Linked DNA regions of Homo sapiens. The protein of the gene in region 1 purifies or fractionates together with the protein of each later gene. This does not show direct contact. Each region holds a gene or a part of one and is shown on either strand. Other genes may lie near its edges.

What was found.
Region 2: the proteins of GUCA2B (region 1) and PYY purify together in Homo sapiens (affinity purification with mass spectrometry; one large-scale study listed by BioGRID and IntAct). This does not show direct contact.

Annotation. Positions count from the first base shown.
Region 1 is NC_000001.11:42,152,040-42,156,423, forward strand, and holds GUCA2B (guanylate cyclase activator 2B preproprotein), read left to right. Parts: upstream 1-1,370; 5' UTR 1,371-1,411; coding exon 1,412-1,501; intron 1,502-2,640; coding exon 2,641-2,827; intron 2,828-3,495; coding exon 3,496-3,557; 3' UTR 3,558-3,781; downstream 3,782-4,384.
Region 2 is NC_000017.11:43,952,095-43,955,439, reverse strand, and holds PYY (peptide YY isoform 1 preproprotein), read left to right. Parts: upstream 1-1,499; 5' UTR 1,500-1,590; intron 1,591-1,956; coding exon 1,957-2,144; intron 2,145-2,250; coding exon 2,251-2,331; coding exon of another isoform or gene 2,332-2,335; exon of another isoform or gene 2,336-2,459; coding exon 2,460-2,484; 3' UTR 2,485-2,707; downstream 2,708-3,345. UniProt on the Homo sapiens protein: This gut peptide inhibits exocrine pancreatic secretion, has a vasoconstrictory action and inhibitis jejunal and colonic mobility.

The DNA.
Region 1 (4,384 bases):
GAGCAAAGGCTGAAGTCTGGATTCAAAGCAATACATAAGAAATTCCAAAGTTCACTTGAGCTTCTTCTTCATTTCAGTCTGAGATAAGAAAAAGGAAGATGGCATTTCAGGCAGGTGGAATGAGTAGGCAAAGACATGAGATGGGATTAGACCTGTGCAAATAGGGTTGGTATGGGGAAGCACGATGACATCAGATTTTAGCCACTTTTGGGAGTGGCATCTTAAATGCCAAGGTGAGCTATCAGGGCTTCAATCCAACGTTCAGGCTCAATGTCAGGGGAGCCTGCCACATGCCAGAGTCTGTGCCTGGCAGAGCTGAGCCCTGGCACACGCACTGTTTACAGCTGCCTGGTATGGCAGTGGTGATATCACCCTTAGAGACTTTGCCCTCTTCTCTCTGACCCAACCTTCAACCACTGGGGCAGTAGGTTATGCATTGCCTAGAAGGCAACTGTAAGATTCAGGGGCTGCTATGGATGCATTACCCAGGAGATAAGGGCAACCTCAGGTGGGCCGGGGCCCTCACAGCAACCTTACGAGAGGGGTTGTATCATGCCCATTTGATGGAAGAGAAAACTAAGATTCCATTAGAATTGATGTGACGTATCCTAAATCACACAGCTGCAGCAGGACTAGGATTTGAATGCGGGTCAATCTGCCTCCAACACTACTGCCTTTTCCTCCATGCTGGATTAGGCTATTGGCTTCTGAAAGCACAGACAGGTGAGATGGGTCAAACATGGCCTGAAGCACCCAGGCACAGGTGGGAGATGGCAAGCAGAGGCAGGTTCAAAACGTGGGGCCAGGACTGGTCTGAAAGATAGTCGTTAAATAGCACTGAGGAGAGGGAGTGAGAGAGATGTGGGTCTTGGGGGAGTGGGGTCTTGAGAACCCTGAAATCAGCAGTGTCTGCCCACTTTGCCCTGGACCAGCCTCTCTGTCTGTATCCTTCCCCCAGAGAAAGGACCATGGGCTGACCTGGGCCAAGGACACCTGGCTGGAGCCCCTTCTCTGACATTAACTAGCTCCGTGACCTGGGGAAAGCCACCCTCCCTCCTGAGCCTCACTTTTCCTGTCTGTAAAATGGCCTCCCCGTCATCACACCCACACAGGTGTCTTGAGGAGTGAATGATGGTGTGCTCCAAGGCCCCCATGGAGAGCCCGGCACATGGCAGGCACTCGGTGTTCAAGCACTGTGTTCCCATAGACTCTGGGCTCCTGCCCTCCTCGCCCCCAACCCCCTTCCTAGGAACCAGCCCCGGCTTGTCAGAGAGCCAGCTAGCTGTCAACCCCACCCCAGCTGGCCAGTTAATGAGTGACCAGGACTCCTGAGCCTGACCTATAAGGAGGTGCTAGGCAGGGACACAGATGGGAGACGGTGGACAGCGGCAGGGGGAACCCAGGGAGCGCGATGGGCTGCAGGGCTGCATCAGGGCTCCTGCCAGGAGTGGCCGTGGTCCTCCTGCTGCTGCTGCAGAGCACACAGTCAGTCTACATCCAGGTGAGTCCCTTGGCCAGCGTTCCCTTTGCCTGAAGGGCCCCATGGTGGGAGGCTAGGCTGGAGAGGGTGTACTGGGAATTCAGAGGGGCACCGGGGGAGCACGGGGCCCGGGGCTCAGCCCAACACCCATCACAGCCCAGAGACCAAGGCAGCTGGTGGGTGGGGGCAGCCAGATGTTGATGGCAGTGATGATGGCAATGACAACACCAAACTGATTCAGCGCTGCTCCCCTCAAAGGCCCGTGCTGGTCACAGAGGTCAGGGTGTGGAACAGAAGGCTCCTCCTTGCATGGGAGGAGGCCAGAAAGGGAAGGAGACACCCTGTTATGCTCCCACAGTTCCGTATATTCACCCACATGTAGGTGGAGGAGGACAGGCTCCAGAAAAATTTTCCTGAGAAGTAACCCTTGAGCTGGCATTGCAAGATGAACAGGAGGTTGCCAGACACAGATGATGGGGAAACTGTTCCAGGCCAAGGGGCACAGCATGTGCAAAGACCAGATAGAAGACTATGGGGGTTCCAGTGCCCTTCCAGGGGGCATGGGAGAGTGGCAGTAGTCGTCACAGCAGGGCCTGTCTGCCACGTCACAGGGGATGCTGCTGGCCTCGCCCAGCATAGCAGAGACGTCTGTGGCCCTGGGTGTCACATCCCTGACTCTGGGCATGGTCTCCTTGGGAAGAACAAAGTGGGTCCCAGAGAGGGGTGCAGGAGACTTGGCCTCCCCAACAGCCCTGGCCTCAGAGACCAGCTACTTGGGGCTGCCATCACTCTGCCATGTGAGCTCAGGCAGGCGTACTCAGTTAGTGATTGTGCCCTGGTACCAGGCCCCCACGGGAGATGTCAGATGAGGGAACTGAGGCTGAGTGGGGAACAGACAGGCAGCCGGTCATGGGCAGAGGTGGGATTTGAACCAGGGCTTGTCTGTCTCTAAAGCCTCGAACCACTGTGCTCCACAGCCCCGCTGCTTCTTCCTCACACCTCTCACCGCAGCGGCTCTTTCCAGTGTGGCCCTGGACTTCCCATAGAGACGGGGAAGGCTCTGGAGGATCTGCAGGGTTTGAGCAACCCTGGGTGTCATGGCAGTGCCTGCCCCTGGACCAGGTCTTGACCTGCTCCTATCTCCTCTCCCCTGTCTGTAGTACCAAGGCTTCCGGGTCCAGCTGGAATCCATGAAGAAGCTGAGTGACCTGGAGGCACAGTGGGCACCCAGCCCCCGCCTGCAGGCCCAGAGCCTCCTGCCCGCCGTGTGCCACCACCCTGCTCTGCCTCAGGACCTTCAGCCTGTCTGCGCCTCGCAGGAGGCTTCCAGCATCTTCAAGACCCTGAGTAAGTGCCCCCGCTCCCTGCAGAACCTCGCTCTGTCTCCTCCCACGCCCAGGCTCCTCCACCTGGGTTGTTTCTCTTAAGCACCCAGCGGCTGAGGATGGGGAGATTCAAGTAACTCAGGCCCTGTCCCACTGGCTCCCAGGACTCCCCGGTTTGGGCACTGTGAGTCAGGCATGCCTGGAACCTGCTTCGTCCCCTTAGTCCACGCCAGGCACAGACCCATCAACAGACAATGGCTGCGTGGAGCAGAGAGGAGAGCTGGCTGACATCTGCGATGGGACAGGGGTGTGAAAGGCTTCCAAGAGGAGGTGTCAGCCAAGCTGAAACCTGAGGGATCGTGCAGAGCCAGGCACGAGAATGTAGCAACTAGCTAGCACTTACTGAGCACCTACTGTGTGCCGGGACTTGTCGGTCCTGCATTATCTCCTCACAGTGACCCTGTCCATTTAGCAAACAAGAAATCTCAGGCACAGGGAGTGTGAGTGACTTGCCCAGTGGCCGCTAGGAAGGAGAGCATCTGGGACTTGAACCCAAGCCCTCACTCCACCTCTAGACGTTCCTGCTCCCAGTCTGTGGAAGATGCCGCCCATTCCCAAGCAGACCTCTTCTGCTGCCTGGCCACAGAGGGCCCAGGTTCAGGTCAACTGACCAGTTCTCTCCCTGCCCAGGGACCATCGCTAACGACGACTGTGAGCTGTGTGTGAACGTTGCGTGTACCGGCTGCCTCTGAGATAGCCCTGGGTACCCTGAGCCCACCAGGGACACCTCGCCCTTCAGCCCACCACCCTGGCAGGCTTCCATCCCCGTCCATGCTCAAGATGGGTCCCTGGCCACCATGGTCATCACCACCCTTCCAGGGCCTGAGCAGCTGGATCTGGTACAAAGCAATCGGACATAGAGTTGGAGGGGGAGGCCCCTGAGGCAGCCCAGCTCCTGAATAAAGATTCTACAACACACGAGTCCACGTGTCCTTTGTTCATCCCCAGGAGCCATGGGAGGAGCTTCTGGAGAAGAAGTGTGGATTGAGGAGAAAGACGGGACTAAAAATACCAGGCAGGAATTTTCCTGAAGTTTTCAAGGCCCGGGGAGTTGATTGAACCCCATCCCGAATATGAGGGAGCTGAGGCTCGGAGCAGGAATGAGGCATCCAGGATCACAGAGCTCAGAAGCCCCAGAGCCAGCCAGACCTGGCGACCCCCAGGCTGAACTCAAGGCCTCCCCAGCTTCGGAGCAAGAGCAACTGTGCTCCTGACGCAGGAGTGGGGTTGGGGCAGGGAGGAGGTGAGACAGAAGGAGAGAGTGGAGGGAAGATTCAAGCAGCATGTCCTCCCAAGCTGTAATCAGGGCCGACTCTGCCTGGGGTCTGCGTGAGAAGATCGGCCCTTGGCCTTCATCCTCATTCCCAAGCTCCCACTTTTCCCAGCCCCACAGGGACCATCTGGCCAGCTCCAGCTGGGAGGCCTTCCCACCCTCTCTCCATCCTGGCAGCCTGAGGAATATTAATAATAATTAATAGCCAACAAACGCCAGGCACAGTGGCTCACACCTGTAATTCCA
Region 2 (3,345 bases), on another chromosome or scaffold:
CCCATAAAATGGTGACAGAGAGCCCTGAACTCCCCATCTCAGGAGAGCTCTAAAAATAGCGCCCACAGCCATCTGTCCTGGGGCTGGAGGGGCTGGCTCAGAACCAAGGGCCTGGACAAGTTGGCCCCATCAGTCCCTATGGGCCGATGGGACATCTGGAAGTACTGGAGGTCTGGCGAGGCCAGGGAGAGGAAGCTGGAAGGGCTTTATGGGGAGACCTTCCCACAGCCCTTTCTCCTCCTGGGCAGGTGGGTTTGAGGGGGTTGGCAGTCTGAAGGTCCTTCCCCTACTCCGCCTCTCAGAGTGGGTGTGGGCCCTAGACTTAGTCTTCGGGTCCCTGCTCCCAGGCCTGCCTCTGGCGCCCCAATGGCTACTCCAGGTGCTGAGCCTTTCTGCCCCTCACAATTGAGAGGTCCTCTTCCTGGGTTCTGCCTCACCCTGCTTTTCCTGTTTGAATTGTGGGTGAGCTTGGCTGCTCCATCACCTCCCAGGGCTTCAGTTTCCTCATCTGGAAAATGGAGATAAACTCAGCTCATCGTCTTGTGATGCCCGAAATTATGCACTACCTAGTGCATAGTAGGTGCTTAATAAACACGAGTCCTTTCCTTCAAAGGATCTGGGCTTAGAGCCCAGTGGAGACTGCCATGGGCTGGGGACAGTGGCATGTGCCTGGGAAGCCTTGGCATCACTCAGGCCCAGAAGACACCAGTGCTCTGAATGACACCTGCATAGGGGTGGAGACACTCTGCCTTGGGAGGGGGCTCTATACCACACATGGCTGGACTGGGGTCTGTGTGTGCCAGTCTGGATACACAGGTGGCCGACTCAGCTGCTTCTGGCGGGGAGATTGGTTTCTGCCTCCTCCTGCCTCTTTTCCAACTCTTTAATAGAGAGAGGACATAATGGAGTGTTCAGAGAGGCCTCTCCCCAAGACACCATAAACTGCAGGTCAGGAGCCAAGGTCAGGTGCTCCCACCCTGCCTCCAGGAGAAAGACTTTCCCCAAAAGGTCCTGTCATTCCTCAGCCCTTCTCCAAGGTATTACTGAACAGAGGCTGAAAAGGGTTGTCTTTTGGAAAGAGTGGTCACACATCCCACGGACTGGAGGGAATGTGTCCACCCTCCCACCCCCAACTCCCATCCACGGACAGGCTAGGGAAGACAGAATCTCAACCCTGGTCCTAGGGGCTGCCCCAGGAGTCTAGATCCAACCGCTTCACTTCCTCAGGAGGCTAGACCTGCCACTGGGGGGCTGTGGGGTGAACATGGGGTTCAGGCTGGGTACCCCATCCAGTGAGACCACGAATCTGAGCATGGCAACTGCCCCCTCAGCTCCTGCGAGGTGGAGACATCACGCACTGGCTGGGTATAAGCTCAGCGATCTGGCGAGGGTGGAAGGAGGGAGGAAGAAGGGCCCACCCCCTGCTGGCTCCCCCTCCCCCTGGGACTCCCCCTCCCTTTCCAGGCGGGGATATAAGCCCCACAAGGAAAGCGCTGAGCAGAGGAGGCCTCAGCTTGACCTGCGGCAGTGCAGCCCTTGGGACTTCCCTCGCCTTCCACCTCCTGCTCGTCTGCTTCACAAGCTATCGCTGTGAGTGGCTGGGGGCTCAAGCCTGGGGAAACCCAGGCTGTTTTGTGGGGAAACTGAGGCTGGGATGGTGGAAGCTGGGGGTGAGTGGTAGGAAACTGGATTGGAGGGGGCCATCGGAGGTGGGAAGGAGGCCAGCAGCGGGGGTGGGGGTGGGGAGGCAGGCAGGGCTTATGCTCCTCTGACATGAGGAAACTGAGTCAGGAGACGGTGCAGTGCCCAAGAACACACAGCAAGCCCGGTGGCTGAGCCTTGGTCCGGTACCAGCCCCAGGGAGAGCGTCGGAGCGCGGCCCCGACGGCAGCCGCAGCCTCCCGCCGTGTAGGGTCGAGGCTTGGAATGACCCACGTCCCAATGTCGCCTTCCCAGATGGTGTTCGTGCGCAGGCCGTGGCCCGCCTTGACCACAGTGCTTCTGGCCCTGCTCGTCTGCCTAGGGGCGCTGGTCGACGCCTACCCCATCAAACCCGAGGCTCCCCGCGAAGACGCCTCGCCGGAGGAGCTGAACCGCTACTACGCCTCCCTGCGCCACTACCTCAACCTGGTCACCCGGCAGCGGTGAGCGCAGGCGCGGAGCGGGACCCCTGGGGCTCTCACCCTGCGGCCCCGCTCCACCTGGGGGCGTGGCCAGATCTGACCACGCTCTTCCCTTCCCCGCCCCCAGGTATGGGAAAAGAGACGGCCCGGACACGCTTCTTTCCAAAACGTTCTTCCCCGACGGCGAGGACCGCCCCGTCAGGTCGCGGTAAAAGCGCCCGTTACCACACATCCTGCATCCGAGAGCGCGGCCTGGCCCTACCCTGGCAACATCACTTAACGACGTCTCCCAGGCTCGCCTCCCCAGATCCAATTCCTTCCCCTTCGCTTCCGCAGGTCGGAGGGCCCAGACCTGTGGTGAGGACCCCTGAGGCCTCCTGGGAGATCTGCCAACCACGCCCACGTCATTTGCATACGCACTCCCGACCCCAGAAACCCGGATTCTGCCTCCCGACGGCGGCGTCTGGGCAGGGTTCGGGTGCGGCCCTCCGCCCGCGTCTCGGTGCCCCCGCCCCCTGGGCTGGAGGGCTGTGTGTGGTCCTTCCCTGGTCCCAAAATAAAGAGCAAATTCCACAGAAACGGAATGTATGCCTTTGTATTTCCTTTCCTTTCTCCTTCGTGGAGGTGGCATCCCGTAGAAGTGGAGGGTGGAGGCGTGGGGGCCAGGGAAGAGAAAACCGACTTGGACAGAGGCGCCCCAGGACAAGGCTGGGGCGGGCTGCGGAGTTCCCTCTGCTCGGAGCCCAGGGAAGACTCGACCACCCAGCCTGGAGCTGGACAGCGCCCAGGCCAGGAACTGCTGTGGAAGGAACTCTGGTCGAGTGGGGGCAGGAGTGGATGGAACTCTGGAAGAAGGGGCGGGGAGCGGCGACAGGAGCCTGCTAGGCAGCCTAGGAGAGCAGATGGGGTCAGGGCTGTCCCTCCCCCACCCCGTGAAGCCGAAGACGGCTGGGGGACGAGTCGGGCACCAACACCCCGGGGCGTTTCCCCAGGAGCTGTAGTACTAGCGCCCAGGGCTGGAGTGGCTGGAGGTGAAGTGTAATCCAAAATGGGGCTGTGGAGGAAGAGCCGTGTGGGGGTGAGATGGCTGTACGTGTGCTGGCCGGAGAGGCAGGCCATTTCTACCGTCCCCCTTTCCCTGAGTAGAGGAGCAATGGGAGTGTGGAGGCTGCCCTATCCCTAAGAAACCTCCCTCCCCAATCTCGCTGAATTCACACGCAGT